Linked DNA regions of Homo sapiens: region 2 is linked to region 1. Evidence: fine-mapped expression QTL. A gene starts in region 1. The other region holds a variant in brackets. All regions are shown on one strand. Distances are from middle to middle.

Region 1 (10,125 bases):
CCCAACATCTAAAGTATAAGTTCAAAAAAGAGACACTGAAAAAATAAAGAGAAGGAAATAATCGATGAAATAATTCAAGACATCTTCCCAACACTGAGGGTCATGAATTTCAAGACTGAAAGGACCTACTGAGAGCACTGCACAATTAATAAAAATTGACTACACCTTGGCACATCATTGTGAAATTATGGAAGCTGGGCCAGGGAGAGGCTCCTAAAAGCTTCTGGAGAAAATGTCATGTCATATGAAAATAATCAGGAATGCAAATAGCTCTAGGCTTCTTTATAGCAACACTGCTACCATTGGAGCAGTGCTTTCAAAATTCCGAACCAAAAAAAAAAAAAAATTGATTTCAGAGCTACTATTTAAGTGTATAGATAGATTATAGGCATTTCCAGACATGCAAAGTCTTAAAAACTTCTCCTCCCTCCCACATACCCTTTCTTGCTTAGCCCAAGAAATAAGCCAGGAAATAACAAAACATGAGATCCGGGAAACAAATCTCCAGCACAGCAGAGAGGTAAAAGGAAGACAAAGGATGGTGGTGAAGCAAGAGCTCAGGAGGACCAGGAAAGAAGCCAACAGGACACACTGGAGAGACTCCTTCACACAGTGGAACCGACTGGGAAATGGATGTGTCTGAACTGATAGAGAGGCAATCTGAACAAGTGGTGAAGTTTCGGATTAAACTAATGAAAAATATATAGAAAACCAGACCAATAATATAATCATTATTATATAGAGAAACAACAAAAGGTTTTGTATGGAAGAAAAAAATAATTACAGTATACTATAAATGTCCCCTATGAATAGCATATCCATAACAAAAATCACGTAAACACTGAGTGTCGTTTGCTCGGTCCTAATAAAACTGTACTAGAAGGATGGGGGTGAGAAACGTTTGCAAATGGGAGCAAGACTAGGAAAGAAAATGAAATCCTATCTTCCAGGCCAGGCACGGTGGCTCACGCCTGTAATCCCAGCACTTTGGGAGGCCGAGGCGGGCAGATCACAAGGTCAGGAGTTCGAGACCAGCCTGACCAACATGGTGAAACCCTGTCTCTACTAAAAATACAAAAATTAGCCGGGCGTGGTGGCGCATGCCTGTTATCCCAGCTACTCAGGAGGCTGAGGCTGGAAAATCACTTGAACCTAGGAGGCGGAGGTTGCGGTGAGCCAAGATCATGCCATTGCACTCCAGCCTGGGTAACAAGAGCGAAACTCCGTCTCAAAAAAAAAAAAAAAAAATCCTATCTTCCACAGGGGGAAGCCAATATTTGCCTAAAGCTGAAAAATCATTAAATAAACAATCATGCATGCTATTTTGAGATGCAGTGGTTTAGATTATCAAAGAAAGTAGTGAAAGTTATTGTCTTTCATGAGAGGGAAAGGACAGAAGTGGAGCAGGAAGCAGTTGTTGGTGAGAGATTTGTAGAACTATTTGACTCTTTAAATCATATGCATCTACAGCTTTGATGAGAATATTCGAATTTAAAAGAAAGTAAAAGAGAAGACAGGAAAGAGGAAGGAAGGGAGGGAGGGAGGGAGGGAAACAAAGGCCCGGTGCAGTGGCTCACGCCTGTAATCCCAGCACTTTAGGAGGCTGAGGCAGGTGGACCACCTGAGGTCAGGAGTTTGAGACCAGCCTGGCCAATGTGGCAAAACCTCATCTCTACTAAAAATACAAAAAAATTAGCCGAGCGTGGTGATGGGCACCTGTAATCCCAGCTACTCAGGAGGCTGAGGCAGGAGAATGGCTTGAACCCAGGAGGCAGAGGTTGCAGTGAGCCGAGTTGGTGCCATTGCACTCCAGCCTGGGCAACGGAGCAAGACTCCATCTCAAAAAAAAAAGAAGGCAAGCAGGAGCCAAATCATTCAGGGGCTCAAAGATGGGGTGCACATGACTTAATGGACATTTTAAAATCTCAAGTAAACCCCTTTCCCAGTCAGGGCTCAGATTTCTTCATCTATATCTTGAGGGGTTGGGTGACAACTCCTGTTCAACCTGTCTGAGATCATCATGAGCTGTAGGACAGAATGTAATAAAATATTTACATGATCAAGGGCGATGGTTCTTTTTTTTTTTAACCTTTTAAGTAGGAAGGGTAATGTGCTGTAACAAGATTTGAGACAAGCATGTCTCATATATAAGCATAAAAACCCAATCATCATGCTTACCAAGTACAAAAGGATCAAGGGCAGTGGTTCTAAAGAAGAATCACCCTACTGTAAAATGTAGATTCCCTGGCTAATCTTCTGGGGAGTCTGCCTCCTTGGTGTGAGGCAGGGATGGGGAACTGGCATTTTTTTTTTCTTTTGAGACAGAGTCTCACACTGCTCATTCTGCTGCCCAGGCTGGAGTGCAGTGGCATGATCTCGGCTCACTGGAATCTCTGCGTCCTGGGTTCAAGCGATTCTCCTGCCTCAGTCTCCTGAGTAGCTGGGACCATGGGCACCCACCAACAGGCCCAGCTAATTTTTGTATTTTTAGTAAAGATGGTGTTTTGCCATGTTGGCCAGGCTGGTCTCAAACCCCTGACCTCAAGTGATCCACCCACCTCTGCCTCCCAAAGTGCTGGGATTATAGGCAGGAGTCACATCCAACCCGGAACTGACATTTTTAATAAGCATTCAAAGACATCTGATGCCAGCCATCTGCTTGCCACACGTTGAGCAACGCTACTCCAGGACAAGTCCTTGGAGGTGCAAGATCACAGGTTTAATTGAGATAAAACGGCAAATCAATTCCCCTTTTCAGGGAGAAAGTGTCAATTTGGTATTGATATGTTTTTAGCACCCCTTTAGCGTTAGATAATCTCCTGGAACAGGGAGCTGGCCACAGGCAAAAGAATCTACCTGGAATTGAATTACACTGTTTGGTTTTCATTGCATTCTCCTTTATTCTTACCTTCTATTATGGGAAATGAAACGAATTTTCGATTTACAATAGTGACACAAAGTTTCCTTTAAAATAGATTCACTGAAATTTCTAAGTATCCAAGGATGTATTTTAGGATGAAGAGACAATAAAGCATTTTCACTTTTTCCTAGACTCACTAGATTTTGGCACATGGATACTTGCAATATTGATTTGTATTATGAGAGTGATCTAATTATTACAAAAGGAGCTATAATCACTAACTTATTCTTAATAATAATGGTTACTGGTACCTTTACAATAATGTACAATCCAATGTTTAAAAATGATACCACTTGAGTTTGGTTTGATCCTATAAACTTTCAACAAATGTCTTGGGAGGCCAAGGCAGGCGGATCACAAGGTCAGAGATGGAGACCATCCTGGCTAACACGGTGAAACCCTGTCTCTACTAAAAGTACAAAAAATTAGCCAGGCGTGGTGGTGGGAGCCTGTAGTCCCAGCTACTCAGGAGGCTGAGGCAGGAGAACGGCGTGAACCCGGGAGGCGGAGCTTGCAGTGAGCCAAGATTGCGCCACTGCACTCCAGCCTGGGCGACAGAGCGAGACTCCATCTCAAAAAAAAGAAAAAAGAAAAAAAATTTTTTTTTCAACAAATGTCTTAAAATTTAAAAGCAGGCTGATTAGTTTGGAACCAGACTACAAGTAGAGCTAACATTTGGTGAATAAGAAAACATCACACTACATTTTGGATGTATGAAAGAAAACTTGACCATGTGAAGATATATGAATAAAGAAATGTACTATAGATACTACTTTAGGAAAAAAAAGAGTGATCTATAAATAAAAACATTTGACGTATTTGAAAACGTGTGGGTCTTGCATACGACTCACATGATAAATCTAAAATTCAACCTAGCAATGGATAAGAATTAAGAACGGATGGTTTGGGCAAAGGACATTAACAGACATTGCTCCAAAGGTGATACATAAATGGCCAACAAGCAAATGGAAAGATGCTTAACATTACCGATTATTAGGGAAATGCAGATCAAAACCACAATGAGATACCAGTTCAGGCCCATTAAAATGGCTATTATCAAATAAACAGAAAATAACAAGCATTGGTGGACAAACTGGAACCCTCCTCCTGCATTGCTGGTGGGAATGTAAAATGTTGCGTCCATTGTGGAAAATAGTATGGCGGTTCCTCAAAAAATTAAATATACAGGCTGGGCACAGTGGCTCACGTCTGTAATCCCAGCACTTTGGGAGGCCGAGGTGGGTGGATCGCCTGAGGTCAGGAGTTCAAGATCAGCCTGGTCAATGTGGTGAAACCCCATCTCTATTAAAAATACAAAAATTAGCTGGGCATGGTGGCAGGCGCCTGTAATCCCAGCTACTTAGCAGGCTGAGGCAGGAGAATCGCTTAAACCCAGGAGGCGGAGGTTGCAGTGAGCACAGATTGCGCCACTGCACTCCAGCCTGGGCAACAGAGCGAGACTCGGTCTCAAAAAAAAAAAAAAAAAATTAAACATACTGTTACCATATGATCCAGCAATTCTACTACTAGGTATATATCCTAAAGAATTGAAAGTAAGAACTGGAGCGTGCAATATTGGTTTTCTGTTCCTGTGTTAGTTTGCTAAGGATAATGGCCTCCAGCTCTATCCATGTTCCCACAAAGGACATGATCTCATTCTTTTTTTTTTTTTTTTTGAGACGAAGTCTCGCTCTATCACCAGGGCTGGAGTGCAGTGGCACGATCTTGGCTCACTGCAACCTCCGCCTCCCGGGTTCAAGTGATTCTCCTGCCTCAGCCTCCTGAGTAGCTGGAATTGCAACCTCTGCCTCCCGGGTTCAAATGATTCTCCTGCCTCAGCCTCCTGAGTAGCCGGAATTACAGGCAGTCACCACCACACCCAGCTAATTTTTGTATTTTTAGTAGAGATGGGGTTTCACCATGTTGGTCAGGCTGGTCTCGAACTCCTGACCTCGTGATCTGCCTGCCTCAGCCTCCCAAAGTTCTGAGATTACAGGTGTGAGACACCATGCCTGACCATGATCTCATTCTTTTTCATGGCTGTATAGTATTCCATGGTATATATGGAATATACATGATAAGTCACTCTCACTTCAGTTGGCTTTCATGAAACACTGTGACAGGCACAAGAGGACAAAGTGTCTGCCGGCATCGTTCTCCTCCTACCTCATTGACTGAACTTTGCTGCTTCCACTCCTTTGCATGACTTCCAAATATCAGAGGACCTTAGGGCACAGCTTGTGCCTCTTCTCTTCTCTACTTATAGGATATTCTCTGCCTAGTGATCTCCACCAGCCTGTGGTATAGATGTACCTGTGTGCTTGTGACTCAAAGATGCACACCTGCAGTCCTGAGCTCTATGCCCAGACGTGGGTTCTCCACTTGGATGTCTAATGGCCATCTCAAACTTAGCATCTCCAGACCGAAAACCCCAAATCTGTTATGTTATTCCCCCAAAGCCCAAATCCATAACTTCCCCTTGGCATCTCTCCCCCAAATCCCTCCCTCACTGCACTCTTGCCTTTCCCTCCTCCAACAAGCCAAGCTTTTCCTAACCACAGGGCCTCTTCAGGAACAGTTTCCTCTGCACAAAACTCTGTTCCCCAGACAGATCCTTTCACCTCCTCTGAGGCTCTGAACGCCTCCCTTCCCACCTCTGCTTCTCACTCCTTCACATTAGTCTGTTTCATTTCCTTCATTGCACTTATTATCATCTGAAATTATGTGTTGGTTTACTTATTTTCTCTCACACTTGATTTTTTTTTTTTAGACCGAGATTTGCTCTGTCGCCCATGCTGGAGTGCAATGGCACAACTTCACCTCACTGAAACCTCCGCCTTCCGGGTTCAAGCTATTCTCCTGCCTCAGCCTCCTGAGTAGCTGGGACTACAGGCGCCCGCCACCACGCTTGGCTAATTTTTTTGTATTTTTAGTAGAGATGGGGTTTCACCATGTTGGCCAGCAACTGTGCCTGGCCTCACACTTGATTTTTAATCTCCATGAGAGCAAGCACTAGGTCTTGCCTGGGCCTTTATCAATAGCAGTGAGCATAGCACCTGGCACAGAGGTAGTTCTGAACATTAATTATTGAATGAAATAAAATAATGAATGTAGGCTGGGCGCGGTGGCTCACGCCTGTAATCCCAGCACTTTGGGAGGCCGAGGCAGGCGGATCATGAGGTCAAGAGATCAAGATCATCCTGGCCTACATGGTGGAACCCCGTCTCTACTAAAATACAAAAATTAGCTGGGCATGGTGGCACTCGCCTGTTGTCTCAGCTACTGGGGAGGCTGAGGTAGGAGAATCACTTGAACCCAGGAGGAGGAGGTTCCAGTGAGCCGAGATCATGCTGCTGCACTCCAGCCTGGCGACAGAGCAAGCCTCTGTCTCAAAAATAAATAAATAAATAAATTTTAAAAATAATGAACGCAGGCCCAAGAAGAGTTGTGGGAAATGGGGTGATATTTTTGCATAGACTTCTAAGGCTAAGAAGGAAAACAAACAGACGTGGTGGGCACAAATCTACCCCCACCCCAACTGGGTCCCAACTCTAGGCTCTCTGGCCTGGCACCACCACTGAAAGGCCCCGTTCCCCAAACCTCAGGGTATTCTTAGTCCCTCCTGTTCCCAGCGCTGCCAATCCCCCGCCCACCCCCACTTTAGTTGCGTGTTCCAGCCTCTCCGCCCCGCCCCTCCCCGCCCTGAAACGGACGTGCTTTTTAGAGGAGTCCACTGGGCTTGGAGTCAGTGGCAATAACCAGGGGCAATAACCAGGCGTGTCCCAGGGGGGAGCCCCGCTCTGCAGCCCTGTGCGCCGTAGAGAGCTGGACTTAGGCTGGCAGCATGGCCGAGTTCAGGGTCAGGGTGTCCACCGGAGAAGCCTTCGGGGCTGGCACATGGGACAAAGTGTCTGTCAGCATCGTGGGGACCCGGGGAGAGAGCCCCCCACTGCCCCTGGACAATCTCGGCAAGGAGTTCACTGCGGGCGCTGTGAGTGCGTGGGAGTGGATGGGGTGGAGGTGAAGGGGGCGAGCAGGAGGGTCCGGCCTGACGCATACTTAACCTCCCCTCAGGAGGAGGACTTCCAGGTGACGCTCCCGGAGGACGTAGGCCGAGTGCTGCTGCTGCGCGTGCACAAGGCGCCCCCAGTGCTGCCCCTGCTGGGGCCCCTGGCCCCGGATGCCTGGTTCTGCCGCTGGTTCCAGCTGACACCGCCGCGGGGCGGCCACCTCCTCTTCCCCTGCTACCAGTGGCTGGAGGGGGCGGGGACCCTGGTGCTGCAGGAGGGTACAGGTGAGGGGCGGGCCGGGCTGGGGCTGCAGGGGGAGCACAGGAAGGGGTAGGGGACTGGGGGTTGGGGAGAAGGGCAGGTGAAATGGAGAGGTGAGCTGGTGTGGCCACAGAGTAGCGGGCAGAGGAGAGGGAATGGCGGAGCCTTGGGGAGCGGGAGGTAGCAGCCTGGTGTAGGAGAAACTGTACTTATGGGAGGAGGGGACCTGGTAGAGGGTGGCAATCGTGGAGACTGTGTGGCTGGTGGTAGTGATGGTGAGTTTCTCTCCCCACCCCAACCTACTCCCCTTCTCCCACAGCCAAGGTGTCCTGGGCAGACCACCACCCTGTGCTCCAGCAACAGCGCCAGGAGGAGCTTCAGGCCCGGCAGGAGATGTACCAGTGAGGAGGGGGTTACTGATGGGGGAGGGTGTGCCCAAACGATGAGGGGCAGCTTGAGTGTCCTGGTCATGACAGAGATTAAAAGCCCCTGCCTCCACCTCTCCTATCAAAGCTGCTCCTGGGATCAGCAGCGTCTACAGGAACGTATTAGAAATGCAAATTCTCAGGCCACCTCCAACCTACTACGACACTGAGGGTGTAGAGTGGGAATTTTTGTTTTGACAAGCCTTCCAGATGACTCTGGTGGCCACTGATGTTTGAAAAACACTGCTCTAGGGCCAGGTGCCGTGGTGGCTCACACCTGTAATCTCAGCACTTTGGGAGGCTGAGGGAGGCGGATCACTGGAGGTCGGGAGTTCGAGACCAGCCTGGCCAACAGGGCGAAACCCCATCTCTACTAAAAATACAAAAATCAGCTGGGTAGGGTGGCGGGCACCTGTATTCTCAGCTACATGGGAGGCTGAGGCAGAAGAATAGCTTGAACCCGGGTGGTGGAGGTTGCAGTGAGCCGATCACGCCATTGCACTCCAGCATGGGGGACAGAGCAAAACTCCATCTCAAAAAAAGAAAAAAAAAAAGGAAGGAAGGAAAAGGAAGGAAAGAGAGAAAGAAAGAGAGAGAAAGAAAGAAAGAAAGAAAGAAAGAAAGAAAGAAAGAAAGAAAGAAAGAAAAGAAAGAGAAAGAAACTGCTTTAAATGCCTTACCTTTGCTGGTGTCTTCCTTGCCCTGGGACTTTTTCATGCATCGGCTTGTTGTGTCCTCCCAGAAATCTGAGTAGAGCCAGAAACACGCCCTTCAAGCCCCAGGAAACTCACCCTCCAGGGCTAGCAAGGGGTGAGATGGGGGCTCTCTCTGTGCTCTGGGCTCAGCATTGGAGATCACAGGGGAAAACTGGGACTTGGAGATAACAGAGGAGTTGGGGCCGCTAGTGAGGATTCCCTTGGCACAAAGCCAGGAACTGCATTCAGAAACAGATTTTCAAAAGATCTTGATCCGGCCAACTCATCTGCTATCTAAAGCCTGGGCTGCAGGCTTTTGCTCCTGGTCTGTGGGATCAGAGCAGCCACAGGCTCATTTGGTTCCTGGTGATTCTCCATGTGTCATGAATTCCACCCCTAAGGAAACCATTGCACCAAATCTGGCAGCAACAGCCCCAAGAGAGGGAATAGACATTGAGATCTACTGTGTCCATGGAGACCCAGAGTCAGCCTAGGCCCTGCCAAAACGAGCTGTGAGATCTTAGACCAATTTTTTCATCTCTTCAATTCTTATTTTCTTCTGTAAAAGAAACTAAGAATACCAATCTCGTTTGGGTTAGGAGGAACAAATGAGAAAATGGTTAAGAATGTAGGTGGTCAGCTGCTAAGTCTTGCACAACTGTGTGCTCTTGCTGTTGTTCCTGTCTTTCAGTTCACTCTGTTCCAACACTCTAGGCTCTTATAAAACGTACAGTGAGGTCTCAGATCCATTGCAACAGCATTGCCTGGGAGCTTGTTAGAAATCAGAATCTGCATTTAACCAAGATCTCTATGTGAGAGGGATTCAAGTCTGAGAGGAAGGGTTTGGCCACCACCTGGTGGCAGTGTACTTTAATTGCAAATTTTTCTTTGAAGTTGAAAGCTCAAACCCAAAAGCAAGTTTTGAATGAATCAAAGAATGAATGAGTGAGAGCATGACTGGCTAGGGGTCATCAAGTTTGCAGATACATGAATTTACCATTTCCCTGGAAGGTCTTTGGCTGTGTTGCTTGTTTGAGAATAGAATTTAGAGATGCCTCGGGCGGCTCCCCCTAAACTATGAAGGCTGAAGTGCCTCTCTATGGGACACCTACCAAAGGCAACTGAAACCTTCTGCGCAGCCCCTGTCCCAGGATAGTCTCGCCTCTACAAGATGCGTCTGTGTTAGTCGGGACTTCTATAGTTGCAAGAACAAAAGCTAACTCCAACTAGCAGGCAGAAAAAAAGTTTGTCGGCCAGACACAGAGGCACTTACAGAAACACAGGCAGGAATTGTCCACCCAGTGGAAAATGGCCATAACTAACAGTCTGTGTTTACTGCTATAATCTACATATCCAGAGAGAGACCACCTCTCTGGCTCAGCCCCAATGGCAAATTCCCTGGAAAGGACTCTGATTGGCCCAGCTCTAGTCAGGTGCTCAACTCTGGACCAATCACCCTTGACCAGGGGAGCCATCTCACTGTGGGAAAATGGCAGCTCCCTTGCAGCCTCCTTGGGTAGAATGGAAGGGCAGCTCCCAGGAGGGCCCTCTTGGCTGAAGGGGTCTGGCTGTGACCAGGCCCCCCAAGGGGACTGCCACTCCATCTGCCCTAGCAAAGAGTCTCCCTGAGGCCTCTTGCTGACCACCTTCCCTCTCTACCCTCCAGGTGGAAGGCTTACAACCCAGGTTGGCCTCACTGCCTGGATGAAAAGACAGTGGAAGACTTGGAGCTCAATATCAAATACTCCACAGCCAAGAATGCCAACTTTTATCTACAGGCTGGCTCTGCGTGAGGATGCCCACCCTTCCCTGCC
Region 2 (10,125 bases), 32 kb after region 1:
CTGCTGCTGCGTTTGCACAAGGCGTCCCCCGCCTCCCCTCCCCTCTGCCACCCCTCCCCCCGCCGGCCTCCCCGCCTCCCCCACCTCACCCCTACCCCCTCCGCCCCCCGCCCCCCGCCACGCTGCCTCGCCCCCTCTAGGTCCGGCCCAGACTCCGGGGTCTGCCGCTGGGTCCAGCTGAGGCTGCTGGGGACCCCCTCCGCTCCCCCTTACCAGTGGCTGGAGGGGGCAGGCAAAGGGCAGGGCCGGGGCTGCAGGAGGGGCATGGAGGGAGCGAGGGGGACCAGGGTGGTCATGGGTCAGGGGAGGGGGGCTGGTGTGGACACAGTGGGGAGGGGGGAGGCAGAAAGGTGACATGAGGGGCACGGGAAGGAGGAGGTGGGATGGTTGGGAGGAACCATACTCAGGGAGGGGAGGATGGAAGATAAGTGGGGGAGGGGAGCACCGGCTCTGACAAGAGGATTAGGTGGGGAAGTTGAGTGGTGGATCAGTGAGTGGAAGAGGGAGAAGCTGGTGGAAAGAGAACAGGCCTGTGAAGCAGAGGGGTTGGGGGCAGAACATCGTGGCCCAGTATTGGGGGTGGTGGGTGTAGCTATGTCTTCTCTTTCCTCTTCCCACCGACTTTACTCTTTGGTCCCCTCTGGCCTGGGCTGTTGAGTTGGGGCTCAGTGAACGGATGGGGACGACCTCAGGTGCTGAAGCAGGTGCTGAAGCAGGGTCTGCCGTGGGGGGAAGGTGGAGTGGGCAGGGCTTCTCCATCCCTGGGGGAAGAGGCAAAGCAGACGCAGAGGCCAGGGGCTGGCCAACACCCTGGTTCAAAGATGCTCCCACCCCAGGTCTGGGGAGAGGAGGGGAGAGGCTGGGGGCTAAGATCTCCCTTTCTGCACCTGGATCCCCTCCACAGCCTGGGCCATTCTGTCTTTGTTTCTGCAGGAACACTGCCCTGAAACTGCAGGACTGCTGGGCAGCCAGGGGTCTGGAAAAGGGATCAGTGTACCTTCATCTTCCCCACACCAAGGTGTCAGGTCCGCAGGGTGAGGGAGGAAGGGCGAGGTGGCTGCAGCAGGGCAAGAGGGTCCTTGGTGGCAACCTTGTGGGACTGAGAACCAGAAAGCCAAAATTAGAACATTCTGGAAATCACAGGACTTGTTCTGTGCTGCCACCAGTTCCTACCTGTCCTTTGAAGAAGCTCACTTCTGCCCTGAGAATGTGCACGTCCTGCCATTGTGCTCGGCTCACTGCAACCTCTGCCTCCTGGGTTCAAGCGATTCTCCTGCCTCAGCCTCCTGAGTAGCTGGGACTACAGGCACCCACTACCACACCTGGCTAATTTTTGTATTTTTAGGAGAGACGGGGTTTCACCATGTTGGTCAGGCTGGTCTCGAACTCCTGACCTCCTGATCTGCCCACCTCAGCCTCCCAAAGTGTTGGGATTACAGGGGTGAGCCACCACGCCCAGCCCAGCAGTGGCTTCTGTGTGGGAAGAAGGTCAGGGCTGAAGGACCCTGGGAGGATGCCCCACCCAACATGTCCTCTCTCATCGTGGGGTAATTGCCCATGTTTGCCCAGCCATTCTCACCTATCAGGGCTTCCAAAAGAATGGCCAAAGTAAGTTCTAACAACTTTGCTTCTTTGCCAAGGCAAGCACCAATGCTACTTTTCTGCCCTCTCTGGATGCCCGTGACTTCGGTCCCACAGGAAGCCAAGCTCCTGAGGCAGCTGAAATTCAGTCAGGGGACTGGGGTCTGTGTACTGATCTACACCCCACTTCATACCTACTTCTTCAAACTGTCCCCAACACTGGGAACACCTGTCCTTGAATATCCTCAGCAATTTAAGGGGAAAAAAAGGCTGAAGCAGAAAGACTTTTTCCTTCCAAAATTGTGCCTGCTTGCTTGGGGGCCTAGGCATGCAGACTTGAAAATAAATCAAGCTTGGGTGGGGCATGGTGGCTCCCGCCTGTAATCCCAGCACTTTGGAAGGCCGAGGCAGGCCAGGCAGGGTGAGGAGGATCACAAGGTCAGGAGATCGAGACCATCCTGGCTAACATGGTGAAACCCTGTCTCTACTAAAAATACAAAAACAAAATTAGCCAGGGTGGTGGCGGGTGCCTGTAGTCCCAGCTACTCTGGAGGCTGAGGCAGGAGAATGGCATGAACCCAGGAGGCAAAGCTAGCAGTGAGCGGAGATCGCACCACTGCACTCCAGCCTGGGCGACAGAGAGAGACTATAGAAAGAAAGGAAGAAAGAAAGGAAGGAAGGAAGGAAACTAAGCTTAGGAGGCCGAGGCAGGTGGATCACCTGAGGTCAGGAGTTTGAGACCAGCCTGACCAACACAGCAAAACCCCGTCTCTACTAAAAATACAAAAATTAGCCACGCATGGTGGCAGGCACCTGTAATCTCAGCTACTCAGGAGTCTGACGCAGGAGAGTTGCTTGAACCTGGGAGGCAGAGGTTGTAGTGAGCCGAGATTGCGCCACTTCACTCCAGCCTGGGCGAAAGAGCGAAACTCCGAATAAATAAATAAATAAATAAACAAACAAGCAAACCAAGCTGGAAGATTCAGTAGTGCTCACTCTCCAATATCCTTGTTGCCGCTGGGTGCACGATGCATTTAAACTATACAGGTCAAACTCTTGGTTCAGAAACCCTAGCACCAGTGCCACGCCCCAAAGCAATGCAACCTCTTATTAAATGATCACTCTGGTTTAACAAATCATCTACACTGCCTTGTGACAAAGTAGCAGGAGAATGGGACCCGGGACTGGTGAGTTTTGGCAGGGAATCAAAAGGGCCTCTCTGAGCGGAAGCCCGGAAGGACGGGCCGTTCTGGTATCCAGCATTCTTTAGTATTCCAGTTTTCTCAAATTCAACTTATCCTAGGTGAGGTCTTAGTGCACATCACAGAGCATGTTAGGCTTCCCTCAAAACGGGTGGGGCCAAGGGAGTTCAGATGACTCCTCAGGCAGAAACCAAACCTGCGATCCTTTGTTGTCTAAGAAAACCACTTGGAAAAGTAAAGTCATCCAACCCGTTGTGCTAGAGAGGAGGGAAGCCCAGCCCAGCCATCAGCATCAGGAAGTGGCTATGCTGGGAAGTTGGAGATGGGTCTGACAGTGGTGGCCATGCTGCAGGCAGAGGACCAGGGTGACTCTCCCCACGCCTACCCTCTGCAGAGTATGCATTTCAGACTAGAAGGAGGATGAGGACACCTTTTTCGCCTCCTTCACCTCCTAGTTTCTGAATGACCTCAACTCCATCCTGATCCACTGCTGTCACTGACTCCCAAAGAATTTTCTGGTCACTGATGCCATGATGGTCCCTGCGCTGGACCCTGGGACCAGTCTGCAGGCTGAGCGGGCGCCAGTGGAGGGAGGGGCATTGTTCTGAGATGGTGAGGGCTGAGGGGCAGGGCTGAGTGAGGAATGTGCTCTCTCCTGCTACTTTGCCAGGAGCCATGCATTGACAGGCCCTCCCAGCACAGAAACTATAGTGATGCGTTGGTTGCCATGGTTTCCGAGGATGCTCTGCAGCTAATCTGAGTGCCCCCCAGAGCTGCTGCTCTCCCCTCCCTGGGCTACTGGGATGGGGTGTGCTGCGACCCCAGGAGGGTGCATTTCGTGCTGACCTCCAGCGGGGCGCGCTTCTCTCACTGTCTCTCACTGATGCTTGGGCCTGGCCACAGTAGAGTCACCTTCAATACTTGGGTGGGGGAAGAGGGGAGGGGCTTCTTTCTCTGGAACCACAAAGTGGCTCTGAGTTGGAACACCCCACTGGCTCCAGAGAATGAAGTTCCTTTAAGTGAAATACTCCCAGGTTCATAATAACTCCCCCTTCCTCACCCAAGCCTGCTCAGCCCTCCTCCTCCTCCACTCCTCCTCTAAAGGGGCTCTCTGTACCTGGTGGACCATGCCATCCTCTCAGGCCTCTACCCCAGCATCATTCATGGGAGGCCCTAGTTCATGACTGCACCCCTGATCCTGCTGCACCAGCGTCCCAACGGCAACAGGCCCTTGCTATCCCTTGTCATTCTGGTCAGCCAGGCAGGGCCTCGGTGGGCTGGTGGGTGGGGTAGGGGAAGTCTATTACATCCTCGGGATGACTGAAAGGTTGCCTCCTCCCAATGCCACTGTGCCTGGTGACATCACCTCTCCAATCCTACTCAGCCCCTCTCAAGTTTGTCTTTCTGTTTTGTCCTCTTTGATTTCCATCTTGATAGAAAGTTTATGATACTCAAGAGAACAAATTGCCCCTTGACAGGGTGTCAGAATCGATTGTACTAAGTCACGCACCTTTGGCAGTTCAACCGTGTTCCTAATAGTTAAAACCATAACCCATTCGGGAGGTGTCCACACCGTCCCTTCCCATCCTTCCAGTCTGCCCCACACAACTGGGGCTCTGGATGACTGGACTGGTACAGGGAAGTCAGCCAACACGATGCCTTGGGTCACTTCACCTCTCAAGGAGATTATTCTCATCAACCTTGTCTTACTAATGAGGAAACTGAATCACAGAGAGGTTAATAAACTTTCCCAAGTTCACACAGCTGGTCAAAAGTCGTGTGATTTTGTAGCAGGACGAGCCGCAGACAAAACCCCTCAGACATCAAGTTAAAGAAGGAAGGGCTTTATTCAGCCAGGACCATCGGCAAGACTCGCGTCTCAAAAACCGAGCTCCCAGAGTGAGCAATTCCTGTCCCTCTTAAGGGCTTACAACTCTAAGGGGGTCTGCTTGAGAGGGTCGTGATCAATTGAGCAAGCAGGGGGTATGTGACTGGGGGCTGCATGCACTGGCAATTAGAACGGAACAGAACAGGACAGGGATTTTCACAGTGCTTTTCTATACAATGTCTGTAATCTACAGATAACATAACCGATTAGATTAGGGGTTGATCTTTAACTACCAGGCCCGGGGTGTGGCGCAGGGCTGCCTGCCTGTGGATTTCATTTCTGCCTTAGTTTTTACTTCTTCTTTCTTTGGAGGCAGAAATTGGGCATAAGACAATATGAGGGGTGGTCTCCTCCCTTATTCTGGCCCCATGGACGTGGTGATGGGCTGCCCTTCCCCAGTTTCTGCCCAATGCCTGCCCTCTCCTGTGCCCCCACTCCAGCTCACTCAGACACCCAGCCTAGACAGCCCCATCTTCCTGCCCAGTGACCCCAGCTGAAGACTGGTTCCTGGCCAAGACCTGGGTGTGACCCTGAAAGTTCCTGTTGCACAAGACGGTCACTCATCTACTTCAAACCCACTTTGTGGTGGAGCTTTTGCTTTGTCCATGCTGTGGCAGCTGCCCATGAGCCACCCATTTTCAAGGCAGGGAGGAGCCCTCCTCTCAGTGCCCACAGCTGTGGGAGACCCGGGGCTGCCTGATCTGACCTCTGACTCCGGCTTCCCCTTTCTTCTGCACCTTCCACATCAACATCCAGCCCGCACTGGGCTCTTTGTACCAGGAAAGCTCATCCACCAGGTCAAGGCCCTGGAGGCCTGGGATCTTGGGGTGAGCACAGAGGGCCTGGGGAGGCCTGAGATTTGGTCCAGAGCCCCTCCTAGCAGCAGGAGTGGGCTCTCTGCTCATTACAGTCAACATTGTTGGGACAGATGGGCTGCCTGGAGCTGATCACCAAAGGGCTGGCAGCTGCCAGCTACCACTCCCTCTACCTGTCCCACCAGCTGGCTGACTTCAAGGTCCAGGACCTCGCCCGCTACTACACTCCAGATCTGGGCAGCCATAGAGAGGTGACACTCCCCTGGGGCCTGAGGGCTCCAACCCTCTCACCCTCGGCTAGACCCCTGTTGGTTTATTCAACCTTCCCCCAGCCTCCTTCCCAAACACACTGCTGTCTCCAAGCCCTTCCTGTTTACTCTTGATCCTTCCCAGCTGTGTTGGGAAGTTATTTAACCTCTCTGTGCCTGTTTCCTCATCTGACAATGGGGTAATAAGAGCACCTATGGTATAGCTTATTATTCTTATTCAATCCAAAACCCTAAGAACAAACCCCAGTGCACAGAAAGTGCTCTCGGAGATTAGCTATTAAGATTATTATGCCGGGCGCGGCGGCTCACACCTGTAATCCCAGCACTTTGGGAGGCTGAGGTGGGCGGATCACTTGAAGTCAGGAGTTCGAGACCAGCCTGGCCTACATGGCAAAACCCCATCTCTACTAAAAATACGAAAGTTAGCTGGGTGTAGTGGTGGGCGCCTGTAATCCCAGCTGCTGGGGAGGCTGAAGCAGGAGAATCACTTGAACCCAGGAGGCGGAGGTTGCAGTGAGCAAGATCGTGCCATTGCACTCCAGCCTGGGCAACAAGAGCAAAACTCGGTCTCAAAAAAAAAAAAAAAAGATTATTTTTCACCCCATAGATAAAGTCACTGTGTCTCCAGGTTTTTCCGTTGAAATCTTCCTCATAGGAGACTGCCTTGGGGTATAGCTGTGGCCTCCACCCCAATGGCCAGATCCTCTTAATATCTGGCCTCCCACGGGTTCCCAGCTCCTGCCACCAGCCTGCATAATGGCCTCCCTCCAGCACCGAGATTGATGGCGGTGCCGCTGCCCATTAGCCTCCAGTGGTGCCCAGTGGCTCGCCACATGCAATGCTGCATTCCCTGCCAGCTCAGCCCCTCTGAAATCTGCCCCTACTTCCATTCTTCCACCTCAGCACACACTGGGCCTAGGGAGACGAGGCACCCTAATTTCTCCCTTTCTCCCAATTCAAATTCTGCCCCTGCTTCAAGCCCAACTCATGTCCCACCTCCCCCTTGAAGACCTCAGGGACTCCCCCTATATGAACATCCACAGCAGGAGCTCCTTCCTCAGCAGGGGTCTGCACATCCTACTATGGCTGGGGATGGAGGGCCCTTTGGGAACCAGTGGATGAGATGAACCCAATCAGCCGGTCCTGAGGCAGATGGACCTGGTGTCTCATCCTTCCCTGTGGGTTGGAATCCAAATGCCTGCAGGACCAGTGAGCAGAGAAAAGCTAAGGAAGAAGAGTGGGCAGGGACCGTGGCCAGTGGGAAACTCATGTTTGTCTGATGGGGACAGTGGTGACCCAGCTATCACTGTGACCAGATCTTCTGATTTTTCAGCAGAAACCAGACATCTTCTAATATTTAAA[C/T]GTTGGCAAGTGATTCAACTTGAAAAACAAACAGAAAAACCTTGCCAGCTGATCAAAACACATCTGCAGATCAATCATGGCCTTCGGGCCTCTGTTTGCATGGCATGGTGAAGAGCACAGCCTCCCGGTTTGATCTCGGCTCTGCAGTTCACTCTGTGGTTGGCCGTTTTCCTTCCTTGGCCTCAGTTTCCCCCTTTGTGGGCAGCAGGTCTCAGTGGCCCCTTCCAACCCATACCCCTGTGCAGTGTTGGCTCCCGGCTGTTAGTCACCGTGTATTCCCGACCCCCCAGCTTTGGGACCAATATTGTTAACATCTACTACCCGGACGATACGGCAGTGAGCAGGGACTCAGAGCTCCAGGCCTGGGTCAGGGAGATCTTCCAGGAGGGTTTTCCAAGCCAAATGCTCTCAGAGGTGGCGTCCACTGCCCCAGGGCAGCAGCCTCTTGGGTCTCAGCTCTGTTCTCTCTACCCTACTCCCATCTAGGGGGTCCCCTCCACCCTGGGCCACTGTGCTGGGCTCATCCGGTGTTTCACGACGATCATCGTCACCTGCTCAGCCCAACATGCTGCCATCAACAGCGGCCAGGTGAGCCACTGCCAGACCAGGGGGACAAGCAGGGTCACGGGAGGAGCAGCCCTAGCAGCACTGGAAGCTCTGTACTGAGTTTGCGGGGGTCGGTCTGAATTCAGTGACTGGATCCCCAATATTCCTATCATCCTGTGGCTTGCCCTGCCCACCGCCAAGGGCCAGACAGAACAAGCAGCCTCACTCCCTGCGGTCGATGCCACACACCACCCCCTGCTGCTCCTGTGGGGGGTCAGCAATGGAACCAAGGCCACCATAAGCAAGGCCCAGGTGGGGATGGCTGGGGTCTCAGCTTCTAGAGAGTGGGAACATTGAGGAAGGGATCCTGGGGACAATGGCTACTAGGAGGATGCACTTAGCTTAGCAGGCTGGGCTCCTAGGTGGCAGGGCTTGTGGCCACTAGGTTGCTGGTGGGTGTGGTTTAGGGTGCTGTGGATTCCTAGTAGGGGGAGTTTAGAGTGGTCTGGGCTTCAGAGTGAGCCGGGCTTGGGGTGGTCTGGGTTTCTTGTGGCCCGCAGTCTTTTGTCTAGGTGGGCGGGTGTTTTATGTTTCAAGTTGGATGGGTCTGGAGTGCTCCAGGACCCCTACGTGGGCTGGGCTTGGGTGGACTAAGTCCCCTGGGAGGGAGACTTAAGCTGGAACAGAATCGTTGTGGGCTGAAAATGCAGCCGGCCAAGGTCCCAGCCTTTCGGTCTCCCCTCCTGGACACCTACCCAGAGGAGCACTTCACCGAGAAGGCCCCGCGGCAGAGCCGCCTGGCCCAGATCTCGGCGGACGTCCTGGAGTGGAGCCGGGGCCTGGCGCTGCCCTACTCCTACCTGAACCCCGCGGCCGCAGAGAACGGAATCGCGGTGAGAGCGCGCGGCACAGCCTGCACCTGCACCCCGCGGCGCCAGCCCTGCCGCCAGCGCCCCAGTAACTTGCCGCGCGCATTCACAGCCAGACCCAGGGAAAGGAAGGTTTTTTGTTTTTTTGTTTGTTTGGTGTTTTGGTCTCTGAGGTTTTTGTGTTTTTTGCTTGTTTGTTTTGTTTTGTTGAAAATAGTAGGGCACAGAATGGGGAGAGGAGAGACGGGAAGCGCGCTCCTAAATAGAAATGCTGTTCTCAATCAGCACCGGGTCCAGGTAGTAGTAGGGGATGGGAAGGCACTTGTTGCGCTGGCGGATGTCGTGTGAGATCTGGTTCAGGCGCTGGCGGAACGCCTCTATGCTCCTCCGCGGGGCCTCCTCCACGAAGTGAATGTCCGGGAAGTGTCCCAGGGGCCGCTGCGGGCAGAGAGCTCGACAGCTGGGACCAGGGCCGGCCAGCACCCCCTCCTCCTGCCGGTGGCCCTGGCCCCTCCACCCTTTGGTTTCAGTGGCCTCTCACTCCCTGCTCCCCTCTTGACGCCGCTAGTTATCCTCCCCCATCCCCGGCTTCTGGTCCCCTCCCTGTGCTCAGAGTCCCCCATCCCGTCTCGCACCCTGTCGTCAGGCTCTCGGCTGAGGGTCCAGAGCACCAGCAGCGTGATGCACGTGGTCTTCACATCCGGCAACGTGTCCATGAAGGTCTCCAGAGTGGTCAGCCCCTTAGTCTGAATCGGTGGATTCCGCATGGACGCTGGGAAGTTGGGCATCCAGGCGGTGAACTCCATCTGGAGGTGGGATAGAGGCGCGGGTCTGGGTGGAAGAGTACCTCAGGAGTTTCCTTCCACCAGGTGCTGACCACCCGCCCTCCAGTCGCTGAGATGGACTCCCCGCCCTTGGCGCTGAGGCTGGGCTGGGTTGGTTAGACTGGGGGTGGGGCTGGGTGTGGGGCTGGGGCTGAGAGTTGGGGCTGAGGCTCGGTTTCCGTTGGGACTGGAGTTGAAGCTGGAACAAGTTGAGGCTGGACCAGGGATTATGGCTGAGGCTGGGTTTGAGGTTGGGGCATGGACGAAATTTAGAAGGTCTGAGCCTCGGGCTGGGCCTGGGTTGGTGAGACCACCGGTACCTGGCCTGTGTTGACAGCAGCGTGCTTGGCAGAGCAGGTGTAGATGACTATAGTGACATATCGGATCAGCTCAGGCACGGTTCGCAAGCACCTAGGGAAGCCTGACCGGCGGGGGAAAAGCCCAGGCGACATCAGTCGTGCCCTGGTACTGGCTGCCCGGCAGAGGGCGCCACCATGCCCCGCTCTCACCGTTTTGCAAAAGCTTCAAGCTGCCGCATCCGTACCCTCATCCTGCCTGCGTGACCCTCCTATGGCAGCAACCCCATCTCCCCTCACCCAGATCATAAGGCTGGGGACGGAGGACTTGGCCAGAAGTCCTCCAGGGCTGCTCCTGGCCCCTGTCTAACCAGTGGCCCTCAGATCTCTCTTCCAGTTTCCCTGGGGATGCCGCTCCGGTCCCAGACCTGGGGATGTTGGGAGAGGCAGGAGGCTTTCCTGGGTTCCTTCGG

Direction of the effects. Positions count from the first base shown, and alleles are read on the strand shown. Sizes are in standard deviations (SD) of each study's normalised expression.
In carriers of allele T in region 2, the expression in lung of the gene that starts at base 6,668 in region 1 tends to be lower than with C alone (small effect, 0.16 SD a copy in GTEx).

The links.
Region 2: its variant is fine-mapped to the expression of ALOX15B in lung (GTEx, PIP 0.98).

Annotation. Positions count from the first base shown.
Region 1 is chr17:8,032,392-8,042,516 of GRCh38, forward strand. It overlaps ALOX15B (arachidonate 15-lipoxygenase type B), which reads left to right and starts at 6,668. Exons shown (of 14, transcript NM_001141.3): 1 at 6,668-6,911; 2 at 6,995-7,214; 3 at 7,511-7,592; 4 at 9,978-10,100. The coding sequence starts at 6,765. It also overlaps the pseudogene LOC124904131.
Region 2 is chr17:8,063,981-8,074,105 of GRCh38, forward strand. ALOX12B (arachidonate 12-lipoxygenase, 12R type) reads right to left here. Exons shown (of 15, transcript NM_001139.3): 13 at 9,677-9,777; 14 at 9,168-9,338; 15 at 8,656-8,970. The coding sequence ends at 8,791. It also overlaps the pseudogene ALOXE3P1. Among named protein-coding and RNA genes, the nearest start is that of ALOX12B, 19 kb to the right of the region's middle. RefSeq lists enhancers at 367-868, 4,997-5,498, 9,079-9,612. The variant C/T (reference allele first, on the strand shown) is at 7,118.